Regions from separate parts of the Homo sapiens genome. Here region 2 is linked to region 1. Evidence: fine-mapped expression QTL. A gene starts in region 1. The other region holds a variant in brackets. All regions are shown on one strand. Distances are between the middles of the regions.

Evidence for each region.
Region 2: its variant is fine-mapped to the expression of LINC02604 in whole blood (TOPMed, PIP 0.92).

What each region holds. Positions count from the first base shown.
Region 1 is chr7:66,896,657-66,913,014 of GRCh38, reverse strand. LINC02604 (long intergenic non-protein coding RNA 2604) reads right to left here and starts at 8,895. Exons shown (of 1, transcript NR_136637.1): 1 at 6,718-8,895.
Region 2 is chr7:66,965,438-66,981,795 of GRCh38, reverse strand. It overlaps the pseudogene RN7SL43P. Among named protein-coding and RNA genes, the nearest start is that of SBDS, 22 kb to the left of the region's middle. The variant C/A (reference allele first, on the strand shown) is at 9,575.

The DNA.
Region 1 (16,358 bases):
CAAGATAATCGCTTGAACCCAGGAGACGATGGTTGCAGTGAGCCGAGATCATGCCACTGCACTCCAACCTGGGTGACAGAGCCGGTCTCAAATAAATGGATAAACAAACAAACATCGGCCATGTATTGTGGCTCATGCCTGTAATCCCAGCACTTTGGGAGGCCAAAGCGGGAAGATCACCTGAGGTCAGGAGTTTAAGACCAGCCTGGCCAACATGGTGGAACCCTATCTCTAACAAAATACAGAAGTTAGGTGAGCATGGTGGTACACGCCTGTAATCCCAGCTACTCAGAAGACTGAGGCATGAGAATCACTTGAACCCAGGAGGCAGAGGTTGCAGTGAGCCAAGATCATGCCACTGCACTCGAGCTGAGGTGACAGAGTGCGACTCTGTCTCAAAAAATATATATTAAAAATTTTTTAAAAAATAAATATATTCAGGAACAAATAGCCTCTCCTCCTAGGACTTACTCTAGAGATGTCCAGGGACCTGCCTGCTACTATTGCCATATGTACCCCTCTGTTCAACCAATTGCCAGAGGATTCCAGGCAACTGGCTGGCCCACAGATTACAGTTTCAGAATCACAGGCCATAGATCAACATGGAGAGCTGCTACCTGAGTCCAGGAGATTGGCAAACACAAGCTGACCCAGGGGCTATATTCAGCGCAGTAATTGATGAACTGGACACAGATAAAGGACCCATTGGTTGGCTGCAGATTGACACTTGTCAGTGGACTTGCAATGTGGCTTAAGTGGGTTCTTACGTTACTGGAGAATACAATGCATCCCCTTGTGGACTACTGCCCTTGGGAAACCTCCATGGGAATTTAAAAGGCAAGTGAGACCAGGTGCAGTGGCTCATGCCTATAGTCTCAGCACTCTGAGAGACCAAGATGGGAGGACTGCTTGAGGCCAGGAGTTGGAGACAAGCCTGGGCAACATAGCAGGACTCCATCTCTACAAAATAAAAAAAAAAAAATTAGCCAGGTATAGTCGCACACGCCTGTGGTCCCAGGTACTTGGGGAGCTGAGGGAGGAGAATCGCTTGAGTCCAGGAGGTTGAGGCTGCAGTGAGCTATGATCGTACCACTGCACTCCAGCCTGGGGAACAGAACAAAACCCCGTCTCTGAAAATATATATAAAATAAATAAAATAAAAGGCAAATCAAAGCAGGGCATGTCAATGCTCACCAAAAGAAGCCTTATGCCAGGGTCTGAAGGTGGCCAGAATCAACAAGTGAATACCTAGTTTATTTTTTTATGAGATGGAGTCTCACTCTGTCACTTAGGCTGGAGTGCAGTGGAGCGATCTTGGCTCACTGCAACCTCCGCCTCCTGGGTTCAAGTGATTCTCCTGGCTCAGCCTCCTGAATAGTTGGGATTGCAGGCATGCACCACCACATCCTGCTAACTTTTGTATTTTAGTGGAGACAAGGTTTCATCATGTTGGCCAGGCTGGTCTCAAACTCCTTACCTCAAACGATCTACCTGCCTCGGCCTCCCAAAGTACTGGGATTACAGGCATGAGCCACTGCACCTGGCCCCTTAGTTCATTTTATTTATTTATTTTTGAGGCAGGGTCTTGCTCTGTTGCCCAGGCTGGAGTGCAGTAGCACCATCACAGCTCACTGCAGCTTCAACCTTCCAAATTCAAGTAGATCCTCCCATCTCAGGCTCCCAAGTAGCTGGGACCACAGGCATGTGCCACCACACCCAGCTAATTTTTTTTTTTTTAGTAGAGATGGGGTCTCCCTATGTTGCCCAGGCTGGTCTCAAACTCCTGACCTCAAGCAATTCTACTGCTTCAGCTTCCCAAAGTACTGGGATTACAGGCTTGAGCAACTGCACCTGCCCTACTTCAATCTCATAAAGTAGCAATGTGGGTCCATAAAATGAGTGGGCCCGGGGCACTCGTGCCATGAAGTGAGGGGCTGAGCACCATGTAGTACTTTCCCTGCAGAAGTTCAAATGTTTACTAAACATTGCTCTGTTTACCAACAGAAAAGGTTATGTTTGCAGTTAGGTCTGGGAGTATTTCCTGGGGAGGAAGTCCAGCCCACAGCTGGCAAGTAGATGATACTGGCCCTTTACCCATTTTTCCAAGAGAAATTAAATGGACACCGACAGGTCTGCATGCATACTCTGAGTTTGGCTTTGTTTTTATTTTTTAATTATTTTTAGTTTTTACAGGCAGGGTATCACCTGTTGCCCAGGCAGGAGTACAGAGGTGCAATCACAGCTTACTGCAGCCTCAACTTCAGAGGCTCAGGCGATCCTCCCACTTCAGCCTCTTGAGTAGCTGGCACTACCAGTGCATGCCACCAAGCCTAGCTAATTTTTTAATTTTTTTGTAGAAATAGGGTCTCACTATGTTGCCCAGGCTGGTCTCAAATTCCTGGGCTCAAGTGATCCTCCTGCCTCAGCTTTCCAAAGTGCTGGGATTACAGGCATGAGTGATCACACCTGGTCTGTTTGGCTTTGATAGCCATATTGGTTTGGCACTCTCAGTTACGTTTTCCCAGATCAAGACACTCAATCCACAGCCCATGCCGAGCAACAATGAGCAAAGAACCAGCATATTCGATGGACTTATCACATTCTTTATCACTCTCAAACTCTCAGGTTAATTGAAAATTAAAATGGGCAATTAAAACACTGTCATGTCTGTAATCCCAGCACTTTGGGAGGCCGAGGTCAGGAGATCGAGACCATCCTGGCTAACATGGTGAAACCCCATCTCTACTAAAAATACAAAAGTTAGCTGGGCATGGTTGTGCGCACTTGTAATCCCAGCTACTTGGGAGGCAGAGGCAGAATCGCTTGAACCAGGTTGTGGTGGGCAGATCGCTTGAGGCCAGGAGTTCCACATCAGCCTGAGCAATCTAGTGAGACCCCGTATCTATAAAAAATTTAAAAATGAGCCAGAAGTGGTTCATAGTGGTTAAGTAGCTGTAGTCCCAGCTACTCAGGAGGCGGAAGGGGGAGGATCATTTGGAACCCAGGATTGAAGGCTAGAGTGAGCTAGGATTGTGTCACTGCACTCCAGCCTGGGCAAGAGGGAAACCCTGTCTCAAAAATAAAAAAAAAAACTGAGGAGACGTGATAAAGGAGTGACACTCAGCCTACAACCACCCGGCATTTTGTTCAGAGAAGGACTAAGTGTAGGACTCTTTGGACAAATTATTATGCTTTTGTGGTGGGAATTGGGGAAAGGAGGAGGGGTGTGATGGTTAATATTGAGTGTCAACTTGATTGGATTGAAGGATGCAAAGTATTGTTCTTGGGTGTGTCTGTGAGGGTGTTGCCAAAGGAGATTAACATTTGAGTCAGTGGACTGGGAGACGCAGACCTACCCTCAATCCAGGTGGGCACCATCTAATCAGCTGCCAGCGAGGCCACAATAAAAAGTAGGCAGAAGAACGTGAAGAGATTAGACTGGCTTAGCCTCTGAGCCTACATCTTTCTCCTGTGCTGGATGGTTCCTGCCTTCAAACATCGGACTCCAAGTTCTTCAGCTTTGGAACTCAAACTGGCTTCCTTGCTCCTCAGCTTGCAGATGGCCTGTGATGGGACCTTGTGATTGAGTTAATACCCCTTAATAAATTCATATATATATATATATATTCTATTAGTTCTGTCCCTTTAGTGGACCCTGGACCCTAATACACATTTTGGTACCAGAAGTGGGGTCCAGAACAGGAGAAGGCTCTGCAACAGGTCCAGTCCACTGTGCAAGCTGCTCTGCCACTTGGGCCATATGACCCAGCGGACCCAGTGGTGCTTGAGGTGTCAGTGGCAGATAGGGATGGTGTTTGGAGCCTCTGGCAGACCCCCATAGGCCTCTAGGATTTTGGAGCAAGGCCCTGCCATCTTCTGCATATAACTACTCTCCTTTTGAGAGACAGCTCTTCACTTATTACTGGGCTTTGGTGGAAACTGAACATTTGACTATGGGTCATCAAGTCACCATGAGACCTGAACTACCTGTCATGAACTGGTGTTTTCTGACCCACCTAGCCATAAAGTGGGTCGTGCACAGCAGCATTCCATCATCAGATGGAGGTGGTATATATGTGATCGGGCTCCAGCTGGTCCTGAAGGCACAAGTAAGTTACATGAGGAAGTGGCTCAAATGCTCGTGGTCTCCACTCCTGCCACCCTATCTTCTCTTCCCCAGCCTGAAATGATGGCCTCATGGGGAGTTCCCTATGATCAGTTGACAGAGGAAGAGAAGACTAGGGGCTGGTTCACAGGTGGTTCTGCACGATATGCAGGCACCACCCAAAAATGGACAGCTGCAGCACTACAGCCCCTTTCTGGGACATCCCTTATGGACAGCAGTGAAGAAAAATCTTTCCAGTGGACAGAACTTCAAGCAGTGCACCTGGTTGTGCACTTTGCATGGAAGGAAATGGCCAGGTGTGCGATTATATACTGACTCATGGGCTGTAGCCAATGGTTTGGCTCTATGGCCAGGGACTTGGAAGAAGCATGATTGGAAAACTGGTGACAAAGAAATTTGGGGAAGTATGTGGATGGACCTCTCTGAGTGGTCAGAAACAGTCAAGATATTTGTATCTCATGTGAGTGCTCACCAAAGGGTGACCTCAGCGGAGGAGGATTTTAATAATCAAGTGGACAGGGTGCCTCATTCTGTAGACACCACTCAGCCTTTTCCCCAGTCACCACTGCCATCGCCCAATGGGCTCATAAACAAAGTGGCCATGGTGGCAGGGATAGACTTTCTCAGCAACATGGACTTTCACTCACCAAGGCAGACCTGGCTACAGCCACTGCTGAGTGCCCCATTTTCCAGCAGCAGTGCCCAACACTGAGCCCTTGATATGGCATCATTCCTTGGGTGATCACACAGCTACATGGTGGCAGATTGATTATATTGGACTTCTTCCATCATGGAAAGGGCAGAGGTTTCTCCTCCCTGGAATGGACACTCCAGATATGAGTTTGCCTATCCTACACGCAATGCTTCTGCTAAGACTACCATCTGTGGATTCACGGAATGCCTTATCCACCGTCATGGTATTCCACACAGCATTGCCTCTGACCAAGGCACTCACTTTACAGCTAGTGTGACAGTGGGCTCATGCTCTTGGAATTCACTGATCCCACCATGTTCCCCACCATCCCGAAGCAGCTGGATTGATAGAATGGTGGAATGGCCTTTTGAAGTCACAATTACAATGCCAACTAGGTGATAATACTCTGCGGGGCTGGGGCAAATTTCTCCAGAAGGCCATGTCTGCTCTGAATCAGCATCCAATATATGGCATTGTTTATCCCATAGCCAGGATTCACAGGTCCAGGAATCAAGGGGTGGAAGTGGAAGTGGCATCACTCACCATCACCCCTAGTGATCCACTAGAAAATTTTGGCTACCTGTTCCCACAACATTACATTCTGCTGGTCTAGAGGTCTTAGATCCAGAGGGAAGAAAGCTGCCACCAGGAGACACAACGATTCCATTAAACTGGAAGTTACGATTGCCACCTGGACACTTTGGGGTCCTGCCACTTTTAAATCAACAGGCTAAGAAGGGAGTTACAACCTTCTGGGATGATTGACCCAGACTATCAAGATGAAATCAGTCTACTACTCCACAATGGAGGTAAGGAAGAATATGCATGGAATACAGGAGATGCCCTGTGATTAAGGTCAATGGGAAACTATAACAGCCCAACCCAGGCAGGACTACAAATGGCCCAGACCCTTCAGGAATGAAGGCTTGGGTCACTCCAGGAAAAAACCTGCTGAGATGCTTTCTGAAGGCAAAAAGAATACAGAATGGGTAATAGAAAAAGGCAGTCATCAATACCAGCTATGACCATGTGACCAGCTACAGAAACGAGGACTGTAATTGTCATGAGTATTTCCTCCTTTTGTTAAAAACATGTTTGTGCATATATAAGCTTGTACTAAGAATATTTCATTTCCTTTTTCCTTTATTGTGTGAATAACTTATATTGACTTCATATAAGCATCTAAGTGTTAGTTTTATATAAGGGCATTTGGGTTCAGGATTGGTGCATTTCCAGTTGTATGAAGAATACTTTTATTATTATCTTAGGCACAATTATGACCTTATTATTATCTTTATTTGAAGATTATGTATAATTTCAGAAGATGTGTATGGGTTAAAGTTGACAAGGGGTGAACTTGTGATGGTTAATATTGACTGTCAACTCTATTGGACTGAAGGATGCAAAGTATTGTTCCTGGGTGTGTATGTGAGGGTGTTGCCAAAGGAGATTAACATTTGAGTCAGGGGGCTGGGAAAGGCAGACCCGCCCTTAAACTAGGTGGGCACAATCTAATCAGCTGCCAGTGTGGCAAAAATAAAAATGAGGCAGAGGAACATAAAGAGGTGAGACTGGCTTAGCCTCCGAGCCTACATCTTTCTCCCATGCTGGATGGTTCCTGCCCTAGAACATCGGACTCCAAGTTCTTCAGGTTTGGGACTCAGAATGGCTTCCTTGCTCCTCAGCTTGCAGACAGCCTATTGTGGAACCTTGTGATCCTGTGAGTTAATACCCCTTAAGAAACTCCCTTATATATATACATCTATCCTAACAGTTCTGCTCCTTTAGAGAACTGTGACTAATACGAAGGGTGACAATAGAGGAATTTATATGCTAGACTTTTATACTTTACCTCAATTTTCATTACCTTTTGAAGAAAAAATGTTTCACATAATAATCACATAACAATAATTTATTCAAATTTATTAAGGCAGGAGCTGGGCCTAAAGAGGGTGCTGAGAGGCAGGAGCTGGGCCTGGAGAGGTCAACTGAAGGAAATTTTTGGCCTAAGGAGGCTGCCAGGAAGCAGGAGCTGGGCAAAAACAGGTTGTTGTTAGGCAGGATTTGGGCTCATAGAGGCAGCCAGGAGGCAGGAACTGGATCTTTATAAAAGGGGCAACGTAAGGCAGGAGCAGGGCCTGCAGAGTCTACCAGGAAGCAGGACCAGGGCACAAGAGGCTGACATGAGGCAGAAAGTTGCCCTTGGGAGGCCACTGTGAGGCAGGACTCTTGAAAGGACGCAAAGCTGGGCCTGTAGTGGCTGCTAAAAGGCAGGAACGTGGTCTGGAAGGCCCTGGTGAGGAAAGAGTTGGGCCAAAAGAGGCCACTAGGAGGCAGGAGCTGGGCCTCAGGAGGCTGCCATAAAACAGGAGCTGGGACTCGGAAGGCAGACATGAAGCAAAAGCTGGCCTTTGGAAGGCTGATGAAAGGGAGAAGCCGGGCCTGGTGAGGTTGACTTGAGAAAGTTTGGGGCCTGGAGAGATCCATGGGAGGCAGGAGCCAAACTTGTAGACGCTACTGGAAGGCAGGAGGTGGGCCTGGTGAGGTAAACATGAGGAAGTTCTAGGCCTGGAGAGACAAGTCGGAGAAAGGAGCTGGGGGTAAAGAGGCTGTTGTAAGGCTTGAGATAGGCCTGCAGAGGCGGCCTGGAGGCAGGAGCTGGGCCTGGAGATGCCAAATTGAGGAAGTTTTAGGCCTGCAGAGGCCGTGAAGAGAAAGGAGCTAAGCCTGGAGAGACCGATGAAAGGCAGAAGCTGGGGCTAGAGAGGCCATTGGCAGGCAAAAGCTGGGGCTAGAGAGGCCATTGGCAGGCAAAAGCTCGGCCTCTGGAGGCCGCAAGGAGACAGGAGCCGGGCCTGGTGAGGTTGACTTAAGGATGTTTTGGTCCTGGAGAGGCCGGGCCTAAAGAGGCTGTTGAAAGGATGATGCCAGGCCTGTAGAGGCCAACAGAAGGCAGGAGCTGGGCCTGAGAAGCCCAAATTAAGAAAGTTTTAGGCCTGTAAGTTCCCTAAAGAGGCAGGAGCTAGGCATGCATGGAGAGGCTGCTGTGAGGCAGAAGCTGGGCCACTAGAGGTTGCCAAGAGGCAGGAGAATGGCTTGAAGATGTAGCAGTGAAAATGAGCTGAGTCTAAAGAGGTCATTGTTAGGCAGAAGCTGAGATCCTAGAGGACACTCAGAGGTACAAGTTGGGCCTGGAGAGGTCGACTGGAAAAAATTATTGACTTAAAAAGAGCACCAAGGCAGTAGCTGGGCCTGGAGTGGACACAGGAAGGCAGAAGGTGGGACCTGGGAGGCCGCCATTAAACAGGAGCTGAGTTTATGAGGCAAAAGCTGGGCCTTAAAAGGCTGACCAGATGCAGAAGCTAGGCCTGGTGACGATGACGTGAGAAAGTTCTGGGCCTGAAGGGACAATGCAAACGCAAGAGCTGGGCCTAAATAAGCCATTCGAAAAATGGAGTTCGGCCTCAAGAAACTGCAGAAAAGCAAAAGCTGGGCTTGGAGATGCTGCAACGAGGCAGGCACAAAAATGGTCTAGCAACTGGAAACAGCTCTGGGCCTGGAGAGGATGCCGGGAGGCGAGAGCCGGGTCTGGAGAGAGGCCGCCCACAGGCAGGAGCTGGGCCTGAGGCGGCCAAGCCGAGGCACGAGCTGGGCCCGGAGGGGCCACTGTGGGGCAGAGGCCGTGCCCCCAGGGGCCTACGCCAGGCAGGAGCTGGGCCTGGCGAGGCCGACTTCGGGCCGCCTCGGGTGGGCCCGCACAGGCCATCAGCGGGAGGCAGGAGCTGGGCCCAGAGGGGCCGACGTTGAGGAAGGGAGCCTTGGGCTGGGAGACGCCGTCGGGCTGGGCGGGAGCCGGGCCTGGAGAGGCCGCCGCGAGGCACGAGCTGGGCCTGGAGGGGCCCGCGTGAGGCAGGAGCCGGGCTCGTGGAGGCTGCCGGGAAGCCGGCACGAGCATGGCCGGGGAAGGCCGCCACGAGGCAGGAGGCAGGCCTGGAGAGCTGGACCGGAGGAGGCTTCGGGTCTACGGAGGCCGCTGGGAGCTGGGCAGGAGCCGAGTCACAGGAGGATGTTCAGAGGCAGGAGCTGGGCCCGCGGGCGCAGCCACGAGCAAGGAGCTGGGCCCGGAGAGGAGGCCGGGAGGCGGCCACTGGGCTGGCAGAGGCCGACTTGAGGAAGTCCTGGGCCTGGAGAGGCTGCCAGAAGGGCAAAGGTGGGCCTCAGGAGGCCGCGGCGAGGCACGAGCCGGGCCTAAAGAGGCCATTGGGACGCAGGAGTCAGGCCCGCGGAGGCCACCGAAAGGCAGGAGTGTGGCCTGGTGCAGGCCGTGGTGAGGCACGAGATGAGCCTAAAGATGCCATCGGGAGGCAGGAGCCGGGATTGTCGGGGCTGCCGCGAGGCAGGCGGAAACGTGGCCCAGGGAGGCCAACGTGAGGCAAGAGCTGGGCCTGGAGAGGCCGCTGTCAGGCAGGAGCTGGGCCTCTCCATGCCACCGGGGAGCCAAAGGCAGGGCCTGAAAGGCCTGACTTAGAGGATCCTGGGGTTTACAAAGGCTGCCAGGAGCTGGGCAGGAGCTGGGCCGAACGTGGCTTTTGCGAGGTAGGAGCTGGGCCGGCAGGCACAGCTGAGAGGGAGAGTTGGGCCTGGAGAGGCCGGCTGGAAACAGTACTGGGCCTGGAGAGGATGGTGAGAGGCAAGAGCTTGGCCCATGGAGGCTGCCAACAGGCAGGGCAGGAGCTTCGGCTGATGTGGCCACGCTGAGGCAACAGCTGGGACTGGGGGGTTCCACTTTTAGAAGGCAGAGGCCGTGCTTCTAGGGGCCTATGACAGGCAGGAGCTAGGCCCGGCGAGGCCGACTTCAGGATACTTTGGGTCTGCACAGGCCATCAGCGGAGGGCAGGAATTGGGCCCTGGATGGGCCAACTTGAGAAAGCCTTGGGCCGGTCGGGGTGGGCGGGAGCTGGGCCTTGAGAGACCACCGTCAGGCGTGAGCTGGGCCTAGAGACCCCAGTGTGAGGCAGGCGCCGGGCTTTTTGAGGCCGCCGAGAGGCTGGCAGGAATACAGCCGGGGAAGGCCGCCGTGAGGCAAGAGCTGGGCCTGGGAAGGCCGCTGCGAGGCCACAGGTGGGCCTGAAGAGCTGTGCTGGAGGAGGTTTCGGGCCTACAAAGGCCGCCAGGAGCTGGGCACGAACCGAGTCAAAAGCGGCTGTCTGCAGGCAGGGGCTGGGCCTGGAGGTACAGCCGCGAGAGTGTGCTGGGCCTGGAGAGTAGGCCGGGAGACAGCCACCAGGACAGGGGAGGCTTGCCAATTTGGGCCTGGAGAGGCCGCCACGAAGGAAAAGCTGGGCCTTTGAAAGAGGCCATTGTGAGGGACGAGCCGGGCCTAAAGAGGCCGTCAGGACGCAGGAGCCGGACCTGCGGAAGCCGCCGAAAGGCAGGAGCCTGGCCTGGGGGAGGCTGCAGTGAGGCATGAGATGAGCCTAAAGAGGCCATCAGGAGGCAGGAGCTGGGTCTTTCGGGGCTGCCGCGAGGCAGGGGGAAATGTGTCCCGGGGAGGCCGACGCGAGACAAGAGCTGGGCCCGGAGAGGCCGCTGTCAGGCAGGAGCTGGGCCTCTCCAGGCCGCCAGGGAGCTGAAGGCAGGGCCTGGAAGGCCTGACTTAGAGGAGCCTGGGGCCTACAAATGCTGCCATGAGCTGGGCAGGAGTTGGGCCGAACGTGCCTGTTGCGAGGCAGGAGCTGGGCCGGCAGCCACAGCCGGGAGGGAGAGCTGGGCCTGGAGAGGCCGGCTGGAAACAGTTCTGGACCTGGAGAGGATGGCGAGAGGCAAGAGCTGGGCCTGTGGAGGCTGCCAACAGGCAAGGCAGGAGCTTGGCCTGAGGTGGCCATGCTGAAGCAAGAGCTGGGTCTGGGGGGGTCCACTGTGAGGAGGCAGAGGCCATGCCTCTAGGCGCCTACGACAGGCAGGAGCTGGGCCTGGCGAGGCCGACTTCAGGACGCTTTGGGCCCACACGGGCCATCGGCGGGAGGCAGGAACTTGGCCTGGAAGGGCCATCTTGAGAACGCCTTGAGCCGCGAGACGCTGTTGGGGTGGGCGGGAGCTGGGCCTGGAGACGCCACTGTGACGCCTGAGCTGGGCCTAGAGAGGCCAGTGTGAGGCGGGAGCTGGGCTTGTTGAGGCTACCGCGAGGCCGGCTAGAAAATGGCCGGGGAAGGCCGCTGTGAGGCAAAAGCTGGGCCTGGGAAGGCCGCTGTGAGGGGAGACTGGGTATGGAGTGCTGGACTGGAAGAGATTTCAGGCCTACAAAGGCTGCCAGGAGCTGGGTAGGAGCCGAGTCAAAAGAGGCTCTTTGGAGGCAGGAGCTGGGCCTGTAGACACAGCTGCGAGAGAGGACTGGGACTGGAGAAGAGGCCGGGAGGCAGCAACTGCGGTGGGGGAGGCCGACTTGAGGAATTTCTCGGCCTGGAGAGGCCACCAAAAGGGAAAAGCTGGGCCTAAGGTGGCCGTTGTGAGAAATGAGCTGGGCCTAAAGAGGCCATCAGGATGATCAGGACGCAGAGCTCGGCCTCTGCTGCAGAGGCTGCTGAAACGCAGCAGCTTGGTTTGGCGAGGCCACGGTGAAGCATGAGATGAGCCTAAAGAGGTCACTGGAAGGCAGTAGCTGGACCTGTCAGGACATGACGCTCAGGTGGTTATGCGAGCGATGGGGAGGGGCTATAAATACAAACGAATTTTCCCCTCACTTTGCTGCTCACCACCAGCTCTGTGGCCCTGTGGTGGAGACCCCTGCTCAGGTGCATTTGAAAGGTTCCGTCCCATGCCATTCTTCAGAGTCATCTTTATTGCCACAGTGGTGAAGCATAGCATCCGTTAACTCGCATGGCATATGCCTTGGCTAGCATTTCATCACAATAAACAGTAAGTGGTAGCTTCACTCATTGTGAGGACACTTCCTGGAAATCACCAGCATCCCATGTCCCATTGGCAAGAAACTCAGCACTGCTCCTTGGATAACCAAACCAAGGCTGAAATCCCATGTATATGTGTCTATCTCCTGGTACTCTTCCTAGCATCAATTCTGTATTTCTAGGAGTCCAATCAAAACATATAAACCGCTCAAAAGTTTAAACTGGAATGCGCACGGTGGCTCAAACCTGTAATCCCAGCGCTTTGGGAGGCCAAGGCGGGTGGATTACTTTGAGCTCAGGAGTTGAGACCAGCCTGGGAAACACGGCAAAACCCTGTCTCTACAAAAAGCACAAAAAAAGCACAAAAATTAGCCAGGCATGCTGGCACATACCTGTAATCCCAGTTACTTGGGAGGCTGAGGATGGAGAATTGCTTGAGCCTTCGAAGTGGAGGTTGCTGTGAGCAGAGATCATGCCTCTGCACTCCAGCCTTGGTGACAGACTGAGACCCAATACCAAAAAAAAAAAAAGTAACTTTAATATAAAAAATATTAATTATAACAGAGGATCAGCATAATGAGTGACACACTAGCACTAACTACAGACAATTCTAGAGAATACAAAACTAGCAGAGGCCAGGCATGGTGGCTCATGCCTGTAATCCCAGCAATTTGGGAAGCCTAGGTAGAAGGACTGCTTGAGGCCAAAAGTTGGAGACCAGGCTGGGCAACTTAGTGAGACACTGTGTCTACCAAAAAAAAAAAAAAATTAGCCAGGTATGGTGGTGGTGCACAACTGTAGTTCCAGCTACTTGGGAGTCTGGGGTCGGAAGATCCCTTGAACCTGGGAAGTCTAGGCTGTAGTGAACCAAGATCATGCCAGTACACTCTCGCCTGAGCAGCAGAGTGAGACCCTGTCTTAGGGAAGGGGAGGGGAAGGGAGGAGAGGGGAGGGGAGAGGAGGGGAGAGGAATGCTAATCCCCCTATAAGAATCTCCTCTTCTCCTGCCCTCTCTGGAACCTCACTTGTCAGTTCTTCCTCCCACTTCCCTGTATGTTTAACCTGTCCCCTGCTTTTAGCTCCTTCCCACCAGCATTTAAATTACTCAAACTTCTGCTATTTTAAAAAACTCTCCCTAAACTCAGTGTGTTCCCTGCTTTAGGTCTCCAGCACACCCACTGAGCCATCTGCTCCCCCTGGTGCCTTCTCCACACAGCAGCGTGAGCCATGTCTCTCATACGTGAATCTCATCACATTACTCCCCTGTTTACATCACTTCTCCTTGCCTTTGGGATTAAGTCCAAACTCCTTAACAGGCCCTGCTCTGCCCTGTCTTGCAAGGCAGCCTCACTGCTTGCCCCTCTCCATTTTACCTGCTGTGGAGTCCAACTGAGCCTCATCTGTCCCTTGAATGCCCACTCTCTCTCTCTGCGAGCCTGCGAAGTGGGTGATGCCCTCTGCTTAGAATACGCTTCCCCTTATCTACTCTCTTCCTGGCTAGCTTCAGCTCCTCTGTCACTTGTCCGCTTTAGCACCACCTCCTCCAGGAAGTCTTCCTTGACTCCCTAGATTCTCAGGAGCATGGGAAGCGAGGTGCTCCTCCCATAAATGAATGGAGATTAGGGAGTGTGTGTTATTCATGTTTAATTCACCAGTGCTTACCTCAGTACCTGGCACAAAATAGTCATGGTGGTGGCCAAAGTATCACAGTGGTGGCCAAAGTAATGACCCCCCAACTGCTCATGTCCTATGTTACACCGCATAATTACATAGGAAGGGGGAATTAAGAGTACAGATGGAATTAATGTTGCTAATCAGCTGACCTTAAAACAAGATTATCCTGCAGTATCTGGGTGAGCCCATGTAATTACAAGGGTTCTTTAAATGTGGAAGAGGGAGGCAGAAGGTTAAGAACCAGAGACATTGGGCATAATGGCTCATGCCTGCATTACCAGTACTTTGGGAGGCCAACACAGGAAAATCCCTTGAGTGCAGGAGTTCAAGGCCAGCCTTGGCAACATAGCAAGGCCCATCTCTACAAAAAAAAAAAAAAAAGTCAAAATTCACCGAGTGTCATGGCACCAACCTGTAGTCCCAGCTACTGGGAAGGATGAAGTGGGAGGATTGCTTGAGCCTGGAAATCTGAGGTTACAATGAGCCATGATTGGACTACTGAACTCCATCCTGGGTGACAGAGCAAGGTCCTGCTTCTAAAGAAAAAAACAAAAGGACATTGGAATCAGGGTCCCCTCCATCCTAAGGTGCCTACAAGACATCTCTCTCTGCAAATGAGTGAACATCATCCTCCAGCTCCTCACAGAGTGGAGCAGCAGGAAAACTCCCTCACCTCATTTCTGTGCTGCTTGGGAGGCCTGGACAGCTCAATAACCAGCTCCTTGTGGAAGAACCAATTGGGAAATGGCTCGAGTTGAGCTAAGGAGAATTTGGTTCTTTCTTATGGTTCTCAATAGGCAGGGTAGGGGCCAGGCATGGTGACTCATACCTGTAATCCTTGCACTTCGGGAGGCCAAAGTGAGAGGATCGCTTGAGGCCAGGAGCTCAAAACCAGCCTGGGCAACATAGCAAGACCCGGGTGGCATGCACTTGTGGTCCCCACTACTTGGTAGGATAAGGTGGGAGGACTGATTACTTGATCCCAGGAGTTTCAGTCTGCAGTGAGCCATGATGATACCACTGCACCCCAGCCTGGCTGACAGAGCCAGACCATGTCTCAAAAAGTAAAAGAGACTATAGGCAAGCAACAACACATCTGGCTAATTTTTAAATATTCTGTTGAGATGAGGTCTTGCTAGGTTGGTCTAAAACTCCTGGCATCAGGCCAGACACAGTGGCTCATGCCTGTAATCCCAGCACTTTGGGCGGCTGAGGTAGGGGGATCACCTGAAATCAGGAGTTTGAGACCAGCCTGACCAACATGGCAAAACTCCGTCTCTACTAAAAATACAAAAATTAGTCGGGCAGTAGTGGCATGTACCTGTAATCCCAGCTACTCAAGAGGCTGAGGCAGGAGAATCGCTTGAACCTGGGAGGTGAAGGCTGCAGGCAGCTGAGATCACACCACTGCACTCCACTCTGGGCGAGAGTGAGATTCTGTTTCAAAACAAAACAAAACAAAAACCTCCTGGCATCAAGAGATCTTCCTGTCTCAGCATCCAAATGCCCCGGGATTATATTTTTTGTTTACCATAATTGAAAACACTTGTTCTTATACTGCTTTAAGGTATAAACGAAAAAAAATGGACAATAACAAATGTTGGTGAAGGCCAGGCATGATGGCTCAGCCTGTAATTCCAGAACTTTGGGAGGGTGAGGTGGGCAGATCACTTGAGGCCAGGAGTAAGAGACCAGCCTGGGCAACATGGTAAAACCCCATCACTACAAAAAAATATAAAAATTAGCCAGGCATGATGGCGTGTACCTATAATTCCCAGCTACTCAGGAGGCTGAGATGAGAAGATCATTTGTGCCTGGGAGGTCAAGGCTGCAGTGAACTGTGATGGCGTCACTGTACTGCAGCCTGAGAGACAGAGCAAGCCCCTGTCTAGAAAAAAAAAATAATGTCAGTGAAGATGTGGAGGAACTGGAACCCACATACATCACTGGTGGAAATATAAAATGGTGTAACCACTTTGGGTATTTCTTTTCTTGTCATTTTAATTGGATTTTTAAAAGAAAAATCAAGACAGGGTCTCACTGTCTTGCCCAGGCTGGTCTTGAACTTGTGTGCTCAACCCATCCTCTCAAATGAGCCTCCTGAGTAGCAGGGATTACAGGTGTGAGCCATTGCACCCAACTGGTGTAGCCACTTTAGAAAACAGTCTGGCAGTTTCCCAAAAGGTTAAATGTAAAATATAATGTAACAATTTCACTCCTAGGCATATATCCCAGAGAAATAAAAATATATGTCCACACAAAAACTTGTACTGTAATCTTCATAGCAGCATTATTCATAATAGCCAATACGTGGAAACAACCCAAATGTCCACCAACTGATAAATGGATCAACAAAATGCAGTGTGTCTCTACCATGGAATATTATTCAGCCATAGAAAAAATGAAATACTGATATACCCTATGACATAAAGGAACTTTGAAAACATTGTGCTAAGAGGGAAAAATGCCACAAAAGATCACCTATTGTACAATTCTATTTGTCCAGATTAGGTAGTGACAGAAAATGAATCCATGGTTGCCTGAGGCTGGGGGCAAAGGCAGGTTGGGGGAGTGGATGTAATGGCTAAGGGTGCAGATTTCTCTATAGAGTAATGAATGGTTCTAAAAGTGACTGCGGTGATCGATGCACAGCTCTGTGAATATTCTAAAATATTCTGAACTGCAGATTTCAATAAATTGAATGGTGTGTGAATCATATTTTAATAAAGCTATTATTTAAAAACATAATAATAAGGGGCTAGGCACAGGTGGTCATGCCTGCCTGTAATCCCAGCACTTTGGAAGGCTGAGGCAGGAGGATCACTTGAGGTCAGGAGTTTGAGACCAGTCTGAGCAACCTAACAAGATCCCATCTCTATGAAAAAATAAATAAGTAAATAAATAAATAAAAAATTAGCTGGGCATGGCGGCACATGTCCGTAGTTTCAGCTACTTGGGA
Region 2 (16,358 bases), 69 kb before region 1:
ATGTGTGTACAGGTGTATATACGGTTGAAAGAGCATAGAAAAATCTGTGGAAAAATATACATGTAACCTACACAAGCATATTACAACCAGCATGATTAGTTTTGAAATAAAGTTTTCAGCCAGTCACGGTAGCTCATGCCTGCAATCCCAGCACTTTGGGAGGCAGAGGTAGGCGGATCACCTGAGGTCAGGAGTTCGAGACCAGCCTGGCCAATGTGGTGAAACCTCATCTCTACTGAAAATATAAAAATTAGGCCAGGCGCAGTGGCTCATGCCTATAATCCCATCCTTCTGGGATGCCAAGGCTGGTGGATCACTTGAGGACAGGAGTTCAAGACCAGCCTCGCCAACATGGTGAAACCCCATATCCACTAAAACACAAAAAATCAGCTGGATGTGGTGGTGGGCACCTGTAATCCCACGTACTTGGGAGGCTGAGGCAGGAGAATCACTTGAACCAGGGAGGTGGAGGTTGCAGTGAGCCAAGTTTGCACCATCGCACTCCAGCCTGGGCAACAAGGGCGAAACTAGCGAAATCTGTCTCAAAAAAAAAAAAAAATACAAAAATTAGCTGGGCATGGTGGTGGTGCCACCTGTAATCCCAGCTACTCAGGAGGCTGAGGCAGGAGAATCGCTTGAGCCTGAAAGGCAGAGGTTGCAGTGAGACGAGAGCACGCCACTGCACTCCAACCTAGGTGACAGAGTGAGACTCTGTCTCTAAATAAATAAATAAATAAAGTTTTCAAAAGCATATGAAAATACCAATTTAATAAGCTTTTTGGAAAATTTAAAGTGAAACTGCACTTTTATTCTCATTCAGATTCACTTTCAAAGATCTCTTCTGCCCTGCCCTTTAGAAATTGTGAGAGGCTTCCCTGGGTCTTGGAAGTTGAGATCTTGAACTTTTTCCCTAGCATGACCAGTGCTGTTGCCAAAATGCCAGGGGTTTGGTGTAGGTCCTGCCGCTTGCTGCACAGAAAGCCAATCAGTAGTGCCAGGGAAGAAGGCTTTAATTGGGTGCTCCAGCCAAGGAGATGGGAGATCAGTTTCAAATTTGTCTCCCTGACCAACTAAAATTAGAGGTTTATATAGGAAGGAAGAAATGTAACTACATGCAGTAAAACAGGAATTAGGGAGGGGTAAGGAAGAGGAGTTGATCAACAGGCAGCAGGTGGTCTGTTAGGCCATTATGACAGATGAGGGGTTCTGCATCTCATTGTCCAAATGCAGTGATCTGGTAAGTTTCAGTTCCTTGATACCATCTGGGAGGCTTGATGGTTGATTTCCTGAGAAAGGAACTCAGATAAGGCAAATGTCACTTTCTCAAATTTCAAGACTGGAAAGGTCAATTTGTTTCTCTTTTTGCTTTTGCTTTTGTTTTGTTTTGAGACAGGGTCTCACTATGTTGCCCAGGCTGAAGTGCAGTGGCTATTCACAGGCGTGATGCCACTACTCATCAGCACAGGAGTTTTGACCTGCTCAGTCTCCGACCTGAACTGGTTAACCCCTCCTTAAGCAACCTGGTGGTCCCCCACTCCCAGGAAGTTGATGCTAAACTTAGTGCAGACACCTGATTGGCATAGCGCACTACAGCCCAGAACTCCTGGGCTCAAAGGATCCTCCCGCCTCAGCCTCCCAAGTAGCTGGGAATACCAGCACACTCCACCACACCAGGCTAGAAGTGTCAATTTCTATGTTTATTCAAAAGAAACCATAAACATCTGCTCTATGAAAGAACTGAGTCAGTTTCAGTACCTTAGCAGGTGACACAGACTCTGTTGTGAGAACGGAAAGCCCAGGAAAGAATTGTAGATTACTGGTTTCAAGCTGTCTTATACCTACCTCAGGCACTAGGAGGCATGGAGAGTTTGCAAGGAAGTGATGAGGAGATTTAAAAAGAAAAGGCAGAAGAGATGGAGAGTGGATGGAAAGCTCCCAATAAAGAGAGGCTGGCCAGGCGCGTTGGCTCATGCCTATAATCCCAGCATTTTGGAAGGCTGAGGCAGGCGGATCACCCAAGGTCAGGAGTTCGAGGCCAGCCTGGCCAAAATGGTGAAATCCCTTCTCTACTAAAAATACAAAAAATTAGCTGGGAGTGGTGGTAGGTACCTGTAATCCCAACTACTAGGGAGACTGAGGCAGGAGAATCACATGAACCCAGGAGGCACAGGTTGCAGTGAGCCGAGATCGCACCACTGCACTCCAGCCTGAGTGACAGAGTGAGACGAGAGAGAGAGAGAATAGGAATGTTTTGAGCAGAGCAGTTACTTCTTGCTGCAGTTCCTTTTCCCCAGAACAGTCAAAATGTGCTGGCCCTTACTTTTCTTCACGTCCCTCTCCTCCTAGGCTGGGATCCAGGAGCCCCAGGACTTGGTGCCACTAAAATAACTGCCGCATTTTTTTTTCCTTGAGTTTCATGGCATGGATCACAGATTTCAGCTTTGAATCTTTGAATGTTTTGAATGTTTCAGCTTTCAAATGTTTTGCTTTTCTCCAAATAGCCTAAGCTATAGTGAACCATAGAAGGGCAATGAGCAAGCCATCATACCCAAACATTTCTAAATCAATCCATTTTCCATCATGACTCAGTACATGTATACATCTGTAACAGAGTGCAGTGGTGCAATCATAGCTCTCTGCAGCCTAGAACTCTTAGGTTCAATCAATCCTCCTGCCTCAGCCTCCAGAGTTGCTGGAACTACAGGCTTGTGCCACCACGCCTAGCTAATTATTTTAACTTTTTGTAGGGACAGGGTCTTCCTATGTTGCCCAAACTTAATCTACTATTTTGTTTGTTTGTTTGAGACAGAGTCTCGCTCTGTTGCCCAGGCTGGAGTGCAGTGGGGCAATCTCTCCTCACTGCAATCTCCGCCTCCTGGGTTCAAGTGATTCTCCTGCCTCAGCTTCCCAAGTAGCTGGGATTACAGGCGCCCCCTACCATGCCCAGCTAAATTTTTTTTTTTTATTAGAGACGGGGTTTCATCACAGTGGCCACGCTGGTCTCGAACCCTTGAACCCAGGTGATCCACCTGCCTCAGCCTCCCAAAGTGCTAGGATTACAGGCGTGAGCCACTGTGCATGGCCTTAATCTACTATTTTTTGTGGCAATAATTAGATGCTTAATTCTCTAAGTAAAAATTAAATCCAATTCCAAGGTTTGCAAAGCATACTAAGTATACCCAAACATCTTCAGAGAAACTATGCTGAGCAATTTCTTTACCGTATTTTGCCCAAACACAGTAATGAATACAGCTGAATATTCCCTGCATGTTTTGCTAATTTCATACTTTCCGTCAGTACACAGAACATGGCAACTGTGTGTCTCAAGTGTTTTTCAGACATCGTCTGACTTACCGTAACTGTCTGCATAGTAGACCTGGTATTATGCATCTTACACAGATGGAGAATTTGAAGTTAAATACGGGCCCAGGTGCACAATTACATTTCAGGGCCCAGAATTTAGGTATAAATGTTGGACTTAAAGAGTGCTGTTTTATTTTTAGAACACTAATTCAGTAAATAAAGCAGCAGACATGGGCTTATGATTCATTCACCTTATTTGTGAAAAGAAAAGCCTAATAACCTCAGCTTCTTTGTCAAGTGGTTTAGCAAGTCACATCAAGAGAAAAGGAAAGCGCTGGGTGCGGTGGCTCATGCCTATAATCCCAGCACTTGGGAGGCTGAGGCAGGCATATCACTTGAGGTGAGGAGTTCGAGACCAGCCTTGCCAACATGGTGAAATGCCATCTCTACTAAAAATACAAAAATTAGCCGGGCGTGGTGGTGGGCACCTGTAATCCCAGCTACTTGGGAGGCTGAGGCAGGAGAATCGCTTGAACCTGAGAGGTGGAGGTTGGCGTGAGCCAAGATTTTATCACTGCACTCCAACCTCGGTAACAAAGCAAGACTCGGTCTCAATTAAAAAAAAAAAAAAAGGAAAGGAAGCTGGGAAAAAATGCAATGAGACTAAAAGTTACTAAAAAATAGCCCAAACCTTTAACAAAAGAAGCTTTGAGGCCAGGCGGTGGCTCAGGCCTGTAATCCCAGCAAGTTGGGAGGCCAAGGCAGGCGGATCACTTGAGGTCAGGAGTTCGAGACCAGCCTGACCAACATGGAGAAACCCTGTCTCTACCAAAAATACAAAATTAGCTGGGCATGGTGGCGCATGCCTGTAATTCCAGCTACTCGGGAGGCTGAGGCAGGAGAATTGCTTGAACCCGTGAGACGGAGGTTGCGGTGAGCTGAGATCACGCCATTGCACTCCAGCCTGGGCCACAAGAGTGAAACTGTCTCAGAAAAAAAAAAAAAAAAAGAAGCTTTGAAAAGTGGGGAGGGAGAGAAATATTTCATTACTATTTATCGCAGAGAAACTCTCCACCAGGCTGCCACATGTGGTTGCACAGGCTGAGCACTGCACAATTTCCACGGCTGCCATACAACAGCTACTCCTGAAGTGCAATGGTCCAGCTATCAAGATAGCTCTTTATGGCAATAACAGGCATTTTCTGTATTGAAATCATTTTTAAAAATAAAGATGGGGTCTCACAATGTTTCCCAGGTTAGTCTCAACCCCCTGGGCTCGAGCGATCCTCCTGACTCAGCCTCCAGAAGTGCTGGGATTACAGGCATGAGCCACCATACCCACCCGATTGAAACACTTAATTTTTTAAAATTGTTAAAGTACTTTGCATTAGAAAGAAAGAAGAGCTAAAATAAATCTTATTTATAAAGGCAAACATAGGGCCAGGTGCAGTGGCTCACGCCTGTAATTCCAGCACTTTGGGAGGCCAAGGGTGGATGGATCACCTGAGGTCAGGAGTTCGAGACCAGCCTGGCTAACACAGTGATGAGGGAAGAGAGAGATCCTCTCATATTGTTTTATATTGTTTTATACTCAGTACCTGTTTTAAGAAAAAACAACAAGGAAGTAAAACCAAAGACAGGCAGCCCAGCGCCATGCCCGAAACCACGCCTGGGCCTGCCTGGTCTAAACCCAGTAGTTAAAACTCAACTCATAACTTAGAAACCAATGTTATTCATAGATTCCAGACATCATGTAATCCCAGCTACTCAGGAGGCTGAGGCAGAAGAATCGTTTGAACCCTGGAGGCGAAGGTTGCAGTGAGCCAGGATCAGGCCACTGCACTCCAGCATGGGTGACAGAGAGAGACTCCGTCCTGAAAATAAATAAATGCATAAATAATAAAGGCAAACAGAACTTTTTATTACAATTATTCCCCCCCCCCCCCCCCACCGCTTAATTCTGAAACAGCATGTTTTGGACAAAGACTCCAATCTTTTTTTTTTTTTTTTTGAGACGGTGTTTCGCTCTTGTTGCCCAGGCTGGAGTGCAATGGCGCCATCTCAGCTTACCGCAACCTCCGCCTCCCAGGTTCAAGCGATTCTCCTGCCTCGGCCTCCCAAGTAGCTGGGATTACAGGCATATACCACCACGCCCGGCAAATTTTGTATTTTTAATAGAGATGGGGTTTCTCCATGTTGGTCAGGCTGGTCTCGAACTCCTGACCTCAGGTGATCCCCCCGCCTCAGCCTCCCAATGTGCTGGGATTACAGGAGTGAGCCACTGCGCCCGGCTGACAAAGACTCCAATCTAAGTAATTAAATCGACGTGAAGAAATAGAGAAAAATTGGACTCTCTGCATTAGGAAGTTTATAAAATAAGCATGTATTGATCGCCTGCTAGTTGTGAGGCTTTGCATTAGGGGATGTATTCGTGACTTTGGCTTCTTCTAGTTAAGTAGTTCTCAAAGTGGGGATACACCATTAGGATCGCCTGCCTCAGCCTCCCAAAGTCCTGGGATTACAGGCGTGAGCCACCGCGCCTGTAGCTGCACTAGACCAATCTGGTTCAACTTTTTTTTTTTTTTTTTTTTGAGACAGAGTCTCGCTCTGTTGCCCAGGCTGGAGTGCAGTGGCTCAATCTCGGCTCACTGCAAGCTCCGCCTCCTGGGTTCACGCCATTCTCCTGCCTCAGCCTTCTGAGTAGCTGGGTCTACAAGTGTGTGCCACCAGGCCGGCTAATTTTTTGTATTTTTAGTAGAGATGGGGTTTCACCGTGTTAGCCAGGATGGTCTCGATCTCCTGACCTCGTGATCCGCCCGTCTCGGCCTCCCAAAGTGCTGGGATTACAGGCATGAGCCACCGCGCCCGGCCTGCTTCAACTTTTATGTAACAAAGTCGTTAGTTTATCAGTTGCCTGGAACCCTCAGATTATGTAACCTGAGCACGTCCAGACGAACCAAGCCTGCACCCACAGGGGGATCCTAAGTGCTAGGATCGGGGCATGGGGACTAAATTAAGAAACAGACACAGCCCACCAGGATCCAGGATCCAATCAGATTGAGCCCTGGCATCACCCCATTGCAGCATCCAGTCAGATCACACCTCCTGGCATCACCTGACTACAAGATCCAATCATATCATGACTCATTAGCCTAGGCCTATAAAAGCCAACCCAGCCCCCACTCTCCAAGTGGCACTGTTTTGGGAGCTGTCTGTAATCCACCAAGCGACTGAACTCATCCACTGCGTAGGTAACAAGAACTTGTTACAAATGCAAAATCTTGGCCGGGCGCGCTGGCTCACGCCTGGATTCCCAGCACTTTGGGAGGCCGAGGCAGGCAGATAACCTGAGGTCAGGAATTCGAGACCAGCCTGGCCAAAATGGCGAAACCCCATCTCTACTATAAATACAAAAATTAGCCGGGTGTGGTGGCTCACGCCAGCAATCACAGCCACTCATGAGGCTGAGGCAGGAGAATTGGTTGAACCTGGGAGGCGGGGGTTGCAGTGAGCCGAGATCGCACCATTGCACTCCAGCCTGGGTGACAGAGCGGGACTCCGTCTCAAAAAAGAAAAATCTTAAACCTCATTCCAAACCTAATCAATCAGAGACGGGGCCCAGCAATTTTTAATCTCAATAAACTGTAAATCTATAAGTCAGTAAACTCTCCAAGTGACTCTGATGCACGCTAAAGTTTCAGAACCACTATTCTAGTTTGTAGATCAATATTTTAAGGTAAGAACAGGCATTTAGACAGTTCAGAGCTGGGGGCGTAGGGAGGAACACAACAGAAATGCCGAGAGATCAAACGTACGTAAGACTTCAGCCCAGCAAGATCTGCCGCAGATTTTCTCAAACCCTGGTGGTCCTTTTGGTGAGATGGGATGTTTCAGAGGGATATGGCTATAGATGGGATGGCCCTCTTGAGAGGCTGACAGAGACTTAAGTATCAGGCCAGGCGCGGTGGCTCACGCCTGTAATCCCAGCACTTTGGGAGGCCGAGGTGGGTGGATCACAAGGTCAGGAGATCAAGACCATCCTGGCTAACACGGTGAAACCACGTCTCTACCAAAAATACAAAAAATTAGCCGGGCGTGGTCGTGGGCACCTGTAGTCCCAGCTACTCGGGAGGCTGAGGCAGGAGCATGGCGTGAACCTGGGAGGCAGAGCTTGCAGTGAGCCGAGATTGCCCCACTGCCCTCCAGCCTGGGCGACAGAGCGAGATTCCCTCTCGGGAAGAAAAAAAAAGTATCAGATTTGTTTTAAAGTACTATGGAAGTGGGAATAGCCCAGCCAGAGGTGTTTGTTCCTTAATTTGTTTGTTGCTTTGTTTTTGAGACAGAGTTTCACTCTTGTTGCCCAGGCTAGAGTGCAATGGCGCGATCTCGGCTCACCACAACCTCCGCCTCCCGGGTTCAAATGATCCTCCTGCCTCAGCCTCCCGAGTAGCTGGGATTACAGGCATGCACCACAATGCCTGGCTAATTTTCTATTTTCAGTAGAGACGGGGTTTCTCCATTTTAGTCAGGCTGGTCTCAAACTCCTGACCTCAGGTGACCTGCCCCCTTCAGCCTCCCAAAGTGCTGGGATTACAGGTGGGAGCCACCTCGCTTGGCCTGTTTAGTGTTTTTTTTTTTTTTTTTTTTTTTTTGAGACGGAGTCTTGCCCTATTGCCCAGGCTGGAGTAGTCTTGCTCTGTCGCCCAGGCTGGAATGTAGTGATGGGACCTCTGCTCACTGCAACCTCTGCCTCCCAGGTTCAAGTGATTCTCCCGCCTTAGCCTCCTGAGTAGCTGGGATTACAGGCGCCCGCCACCACGCCCGGCTAATTTTTGTGTGTTTAGTAGAGACCGCGTTTCGCCATGTTGCACAGGCTGGTCTCGAACTCCTGGCCTCAAGTGATCTGCCCGCCTCAGCCTCCCAAAGTGCTGGGATTGCAGGTGTGAGCCACTGCGGCTGACCAGTCCAGAGTCTATTTGAAACAGAGTTGGAAAGACAGGAATTTAAACCTTACTAGTTGTGTAAAGTTGGTATGCAGCAGGCACATTTTAGGATATCTGCCCAGCCCACGATTCTTCCATTTCTTCTCTAGAATCTCTGTCTCTCAACACAAGGGGGAAGAAAGAGAGAGCGAGACAGACAGACTCTTATGCAACCACATAAAAGGAATAACCTTTGCTAAGAAGATAACGATTGTCTCTCTAAGGAGTTTAGAATATGGACAGAACAATAATCATGGATTTTTGCAGATGGCTGAACCTGTCTTCTGTGATTCCAGGAGTTGTGGGGCAGCCATGCTTCTCTACAAGGATACAGATACCAAGAGAAAGAACCCATTCTGCAGGTGGAGAAAAAGAGGACTCTGGGGTCTGTTACCTGAGTTTCCAGCTGTCTCCTGAGCCAGGTTCAGCACCTTCCTCTGTCTCGTAGCAAATCAGCCCCTGGATTCAGCGAGATATCCTGAGAGCCTACAAGTAACTTTGGCTGCCCACCTGTATTCTTTTTCTTATTTGTTATTAATTTATGTTGAGACGGAGTCTCGCTCTGTCGCCCAGGCTGGAGTGCAATGGCGTGATCTCAGCTCACTGCAACCTCCACCTACCGGGTTCAAGCAATTCTCCTGCCTCAGCTTCCTGAGTAGCTGGGACTACAGGTGCCCATCACCACGCCTGGCTAATTTTTGTATTTTTAGTAGAGACAGGATTTCACCATGTTGGCCTGGTTGATCTCAAACTCCTGACCTCAGGTGACCCGCCTGCCTTTGCCTTCCAAAGTGCTGGGATTATAGGCGTGAGCCACGCCCCGGGTCCCATATTCTTTTTCTTTGCAAAAGATTCAGCTGAAGTTCGTTTCTGTAACTCATACCAGAAAGCCTTTGCTAAGACAGGTGAGCAATTTATCTAATCTCACTCAACTTCAATGTATTTGTGGAAGGAGGCTGCTAATAGGTACCTCATTCACTGGTAAAGAGCTAAGTGAGATAATGTGCGTAAATACTTAGGGCAATGTCCAGCACACATTAAAATCACCCTTTCAAGTCATAGGAATGAGTTCTTTATCACCCTGGGCTGTGGTAATCACCTGTGCGTTCCAGGTCAAAAGGCCTGAGGTGGCTCCCTGGAATATGGCCTGGTCTCCACTCGAGTCTACTAATCTGAAGGCTGGGCAACCACAGATTACTTGCTCTGATTGAAAAGTTTGACAAGAAAATGATGACCAGGTGCCTTTCAGTGATTTCAATTTTTGAAGATGGCCAGGTCCACCGGCTCAC[C/A]CACTGGGAGGCCAAGGCAGGAAGATCTGTTGAGCCCAGGAGTTCAAGACCAGCCTGGGTAATAGAGTGAGACCCTGTCTCTTAAAATAAGTAAATAAATAAATGAAGTAAAGAAAAAATCTGCAGGCCGGGCGCAGTGGCTCACGCCTGTAATCCCAGCACTTTGGGAGGCCGAGGCGGGCAGATCACGAGGTCAGGACATGGAGACCATCCTGGCTAACATGGTGAAACCCCATCTCTACTAAAAATACAAAAAATTAGCTGGGCGTGGTGGTGGGCGCCTGTAGTCCCAGCTACTCAGGAGGCTGAGGCAGGAGAATGGTGTGAACCCGGGAGGCGGAGCTTGCAGTGAGCCGAGATTGTGCCACTGCACTCCAGCCTGGGTGACAGAGTGAGACTCCATCTCAAAAAAAAAAAAAAAAAGAAAGAAAAAGAAAAAGAAAGAAAAGAAAAAATCTGAATATAATGTGAAAACTTCTTTCCTAAGATTATTCTTCCTTTTAATTTTAATTTTTTTTTTTTTTGGAGACAGAGTATCGTTCTGTCACCCAGGCTGGAGTGCAGTGGCACGATCTCAGCTCACTGCCACCTGTGCCCAGAGGTTTTAGGGGTATTTTTGTGTTGAGATGCTGATATGGTTTGGATTTGTGTCTCTGCCCAAATCTGATGTTGAATTGTGGTCCCCAGTGTTGGAGGAGGGGCCTGGTGGGAGGTGATTGGATCATGGGGGCGGATTTCCCTCTTGCTGTTCCTATGATAGTGAGTTCTCGCAAGATCTGGTTGTTTAAAAGTATGTGGCACCAGCTGGACGTGGTGGCTCACACTTGTAATCCCAGCACTTTGGGAGACCAAAGCGGCTGGATCACCTGAGGTCAGGAGTTCAAGACAAGCCTGACCAACATGGTGAAATCCCATCTCTACTAAAAATACAAAAATTAGCTGGGTGTGGTGGCGCATGCCTATAATCCCAGCTACTTGGGAGGCTGAGGCAGGAGAATCACTTGAACCCGGGAGGTGGAGGTTGCAGTGAGCCAAGATCTTGCCATTGCACTGCAACCTGGGCAATAGAGTGAGACTCCATCTCAAAACAAAACCAAAAAAAGTATGTGGCACCTCCCCCTTCACTCTCTTCCTCCTGCTCCAGCCATGCAGACGTGCCTCTTCGCCTTCTGCCATGATTGTAAGTTTCCTGAGGCCTCCCTAGCCATGCTTCCTGTACAGCCTGTGGAACCGTGAACCAATTTAGCTTCTTTTCTTTATAACTTACCCAGTCTCAGGTAGCTCTTTATAGCAATGCAAGAATGGGCTGATACAGATGCCATGTTTGTACCCATGCCATTGTGCCAGCCGAAGACTGCCACAGGGCTGGCCAGTCCCAAACACCCTCCACATCCAGCTCCAGCCAGGTTCCTGCAGCTTTGGGCTGGCTTTGCAGGACCAGAACTCAATACATAACTATCTGACTGCTCCCTGCAACCTCTGGCAGGGCTGGGCAGCCACGACCTCACTCCCCTGCCCTAACTCCAAGGTACTGGCATTACCAATGGGGGCTCGAAACTGCAGCTGGGTGAGCTCCAAGCCCTCTGCATCCTTCAGCAGGAAGGTCATAAGAAGTGGAAAATGCAACATTTGGGCATGAAGGCAGATGTGCCTGTCCTCACCTAGGTCCATGGGGATGCAGCCCTAGCAGGGACCCGCCTTTCTCTACCCAGCACTTCCCTGCCCTCCTCCAGTATCACAGGGACTGAGGTAGGAAGGGCCTGAATAGGACAGGGGCGGGGCTTGTAAACACAGCTCTGTTCCTGCCTCTGCCAAACTGTTTTGCAGTTTTGACCTGCAAAAACTGTCCCACGCACACACGTAATTCCCTGGATGGACTGAGTGTGAGGTAGGCAGGCTGACTCTAACCACCCTTCCTCCAATTACAGAAAACAATGACCATCTACAGGCTTCACATATCTTAATTCATTTAATCTTCACAAGAACGCTGGGTAGTAAGTGCTATTATTATCCCTATTTTTACAGATGATGAAATGGAGGCATACAGAGTACAAATGAAATTTGCGGCCGGGCATGGTGGCTCACTCCTGTAGTCCCAGCACTTTGGGAGGCCGAGGCAGGTGGATCACGTGAGGTCAGGAGACCAGTATGGCCAACATGGTGAAACCCCGTCTCTACTAAAAATACAAAAATTAGCCAGGCATGGTGGCAGGCACGTGTAATCCTAGCCTCTCGGGAGGCTGAGGCAGGAGAATGCTTGAACCTGGGAGGCGGAAATTGTAGTGAGCTGAGACCATGCCATTGCACTCCAACCTGGGCAACAAGAGCAAGACTCCATCTCAAAAAAAAAGAAGAAGAAAAGAAATTTGTGGCTGGGGGCAGTGGCTCACGCCTGTAATTCCACCATTTAGAGAGGTGGAGGTGGGAGGATCACTTGAAACCACGAGTTCGAGACCAGCCTGGGTAACATAGTGAGACACCCCCCCCCCCAACCAACTCTATTTTTTTAAAAAAAGAAATTTGCCCAAAATTACCCAAAGAAGCATCAGTGCCAGATTTTGAACCCAGGCAAGCCAGCTCCTAATCCTAAACCCAACCTGCTAACCACTAGGTTCTCCTGTCTCCCAGTAAGCCACTCCCTGTCCATGACCTGGACATTAGTAATTGCTGGCTACCAGGAATCAGAACTGGCTACCAAGGAGAAAAGCACCATTGTTTGCTCTAAATAAGGTATGCATGTTTCAGGTTTTTAGAATTGGGGCTTAAAATACACAAAGATGGGCTGGGCACAGTGGCTCACGCCTATAATCCCAGCACTTTGGGATGCTGAGGCAAGAGGATCACTTGAGCCCAGGACTTCAAGACCAGCATGGATGACATCACAAGACCCTGTTTCTAAAAAAAAAAAAAAAAAAAAAGAAAAAAGAAAAGCCAGGTGTGGTGACACTCACCTGTAGTCCCAGTTACTTGGGAGGCTGAGGCAGGAGGATCGCTCAGCAGATCAAGGCTGCAGTGAGCTATGATTGAGCCACTGCACTCCAGCCTGAGTGACTAAGACCTTGTCTCAAAAAAAGAAGAGGCCAGGTGTGGTGGCTCACGCCTGTAACCCCAGCACTTTGGGAGGCCGAGGCAGGCAGATCACCTGAGGTCAGGAATTCGAGACCAGCCTGGACAACATGGTGAAACCTCGTCTCTACTAAAAATACAAAAAGTAGCTGGGCGTGGTTGTGGGTGCCTGTAATCCCAGCTATTCAGGAGGCTGAGGCAGGAGAATCACTTGAACCCGGGAGGCAATGATTGCAGTGAGCTGAGATCACGCCACTGCCCTCCAGCCTGGGTGACAGAGCAAGGTTCCATCTCAAAAAAAAAAAAAAGAAAAGATACACGAAGATTGTCTGGGCATAGTGGCTCACACTTATAATCCCAGCAGTTTGGGAGGCCAAGGCAGGAAGATTGCTTGGAACCAGGAGTTCAAGACCAACCTGGCCAACATAGCAAGACCCCATCTCCAAAAAAAAAATTATAAAATAAAATAAATAGGACACATGAAAGTGGGCTGGGTGGAGTGGCTCACAGCTATAATCCCTGTGTTTTGGGAGGCCAAGGCGAGAGGATCACTTGAGGCCAGGAGTTTGAGGCTGCAGTAAGCTATGCTTACATCACTACACTCCAGCCTGGGTGACAGAGCAAGTCCCTGTCTCTAAAAAAAAAAAAAAATTTGGCCGAAGATATACTCTGGAAGGTCCCATCTAAGAAACACACACGCGTGCACGCATGCACACACACAAACACACACACTTCATCCATTTGTTGCTGACACTCGAATTGTGGCCAGACCCACCTCCAGGATTTTCTTTGCCTGGCTTGCTTTGCTTAGACTTTTGACATCTCTCATTTTTCTGGAATCTAACCCAGGCCAAGATCTCTAATGTCGCTGTCACTAAAAGTTGCATATCCCACATCCTCTAGATATCACACACTTCTGGCCAACCTTTTGGTTTCCCACTGTGTATTTTTGGCTCATTCTTTCCAATTCACGCCATTTGTGAATCATCCAACACGGGCCGCACATCTCGTCCAATCCATGGCATGGCCGTGTTGTGCTACCAACTTTGTGGGTGGCATTTCCCACACCCCAGAGTATGGGCTATCATTATGTATCTGGGTGCGAAAAAAATGCACATGACAGTGGGTACAGTTACTCCCTCTTCTAGTTCCCACAGCATTCTGTGATTTGCTTGTGTGTGTGTGTGTGTGTGTGTGTGTGTGTGTGTGTGTGTGTGTGTGTGTGGTGGGGGGGGCAAGGATACATGCAGAAAACAAGATGGAAATAAAAGAAGTATACCATTTGTCTCCCAGCATCAATGGCTGCCTGGGTGGAACCTGGGCTTCCTTTTTTTTTTTTTTAGAGGCGGAGTCTTGCTCTGTGGCCCAGGCTGGAGTGCAGTGGCGTGATCTCAGCTCACTGCAACCTCTGCCTACTGGATTCAAGCAATTCTCCTGCCTCAGCCTCCCAAGTAGCTGGGATTACAGGCATGCGCCACCACGGCCGGTTAATTGTTGTAATTTTTGTAGATACGGCGTTTTCCCATGTTGGCCAGGCTGGTCTCGAACTGCTGGCCTCAAGTGATCCTCCTGCCTTGGCCTCCCAAAGTGCTAGGATTATAGGCGGGAACCACCACGCCCAACACTGGGCTTCCTTGGGTGTCAAATGGACATCTTTAGGGCTGGTCCATCCTCTGGATCCATTCCCTCTCCCTCCAGGAGGGCTAGGAAGAGGGCAGTCCCTCCTCAGCCGCCATCATCATCTTGAGGTGCAGGGCAGTCAGGTAAACCCCAAGGAAGAGGAACAGACCTCAGGCTGGTGGACCTGGCCTGCGGGGGTAGGGGGTGACAGCTGCCCTAGGTGCCCAGGGTGGGTCGAAAGTCAAAGGCTGAGGCAATCAGGAACCGCTCTGTCTTGGGCAGGATGCTAGAACCGTGGTGGGTGATGCCACCCCCTTGAGGTCACTTTGGAAATTTGGGGTTTTCTGATCATCACAATAATGTAATAGCAACCTGTGGCCAGGCGCAGTGTCTCACACCTGTAATCCCAACAGTTTGGGAGGCTGAGGGAGGTGGATTGTTTGAGCCCAAAAGTTCAAGACCAGCCTAGGCAACATAGCAAGCCAAAACAAAACAAAACAACCTAGCTGGGCATGGTGGTGCCTGCCTGTGGTCCCAGCTACTTGGGAGGCTGGGGCGGGAGGATCACTTTAGCTGGGGAGGTTGAGGCTGCAGTGAGCTATGATCATGCCACTGTAGTGTACTCCAGCCTGGGCAACAGAGTGAGGCTCTATCTAAAAGATAATATTAATAATAGCAACCCACTCCTGGGATACAGACATAGACTCTGCAAAGATCTGTCCCAAGTTCCATGTGGCTCCAGTGTCGTATCCAACATTCACACAGATGAAAAATGTTCATCCTCATTTGAGCCCTGAACTGAACTCTATTTTGCAGAAAGGATTTTTTGCACAGTCTTAACATACATTGTATTTTCCAGCAATGAAACTAAATTGAAGCAAAAGTGTACTTTGTTTGGGGCTGGGCACGGTGGCTCATGCCTGTAATCCCAGCAGTTTGGGAGGCCGAGGTGAGTGGATCACCTGAGGTCAGGAGTTCAAGACCAGCCTGGGCAACATGGCGAAACCCCGTCTCTACTAAAAATACAAAAAAATTATAGCCAGGCGTGGTGGCAGGTGCTGTAACCCCAGCTACTCGGGAGGCTGAAGCCGGAAGAATTGCTTGAACCGGGGAGGCAGAGTTTGCAGTGAGCCGAGATCGTGCCACTGCACTCCAGCCTGGGAGACAAGAGTGACCTCTGCCTCCTGGACCAAAGCAATTCTCCTGCCTCAGCCTGCCGAGTAGCTGGGATTACAGGCATGCAGCACCACGCCTGGCTATTTTTTGTATTTTTGGTAGAGACAGGTTTTCGCCACATTGGCGAGGCTGGTCTCAAACTCCCGACCTCAGATGATCCACCTACCTTGGCCTCCCAAAGTGTTGGGATTACAGGTGTGAGCCACCGTGCCCAGTCTTTTTTTCTTTTTTGGGACAGGGTCTTGCTCTGTCACCCAGCCTTGGGTGCAGTGGGGTGATCATAGCTCAGTGGTCTCCAGTGCCCAGGCTGCACAGCAGGAGGTGAGCAGCGGGCAAGCAAGTGAAGCTGCATCTGTATTTATAGCCACTCCCCATTGCTCGCATTCCCACCTGAGCTCCACCCCCTGTCAGATCAGTGGCAGCATTAGGTTCTCATAAGAGCACCTATTGTGTACTGCACATTGGAGGGATCTGGGTTGCATGTTCCTTATGAGAATCTAATGCCTGATGATCTGAGGTGGAACAGTTTCATCCCAAAACCATCCCCTACTACTCCCCATCCATGGAAAAACTGTCTTCCACAAAACCAGTCCCTGGTGCCAAAAAGATAGCTCACTGTAGCCTCAAACTGCTGGACTCAAGCAATCCTCCCACCTCAGCCTCCAAGTAGCTGGGACTACAGGTGTATGCCACCACACCCGGCTAATTTTTTTATTTTTTGTGGAGATAGGGTCTTGCTGTGTTGCCCAGGCTGGGTTGATACCTTTTGAATTTTTTTTTTTTTTTTGAGACAGAGTCTTGCTCTGTCACCAGGCTGGAGTGCAGTGGCACACTCGGCTCACTGCAACCTTCACCTCCCAGGCTCAAGTGATTCTCCTGCCTCAGCCTCCTGAGTAGCTGGGACTACAGGCATGCACCACCA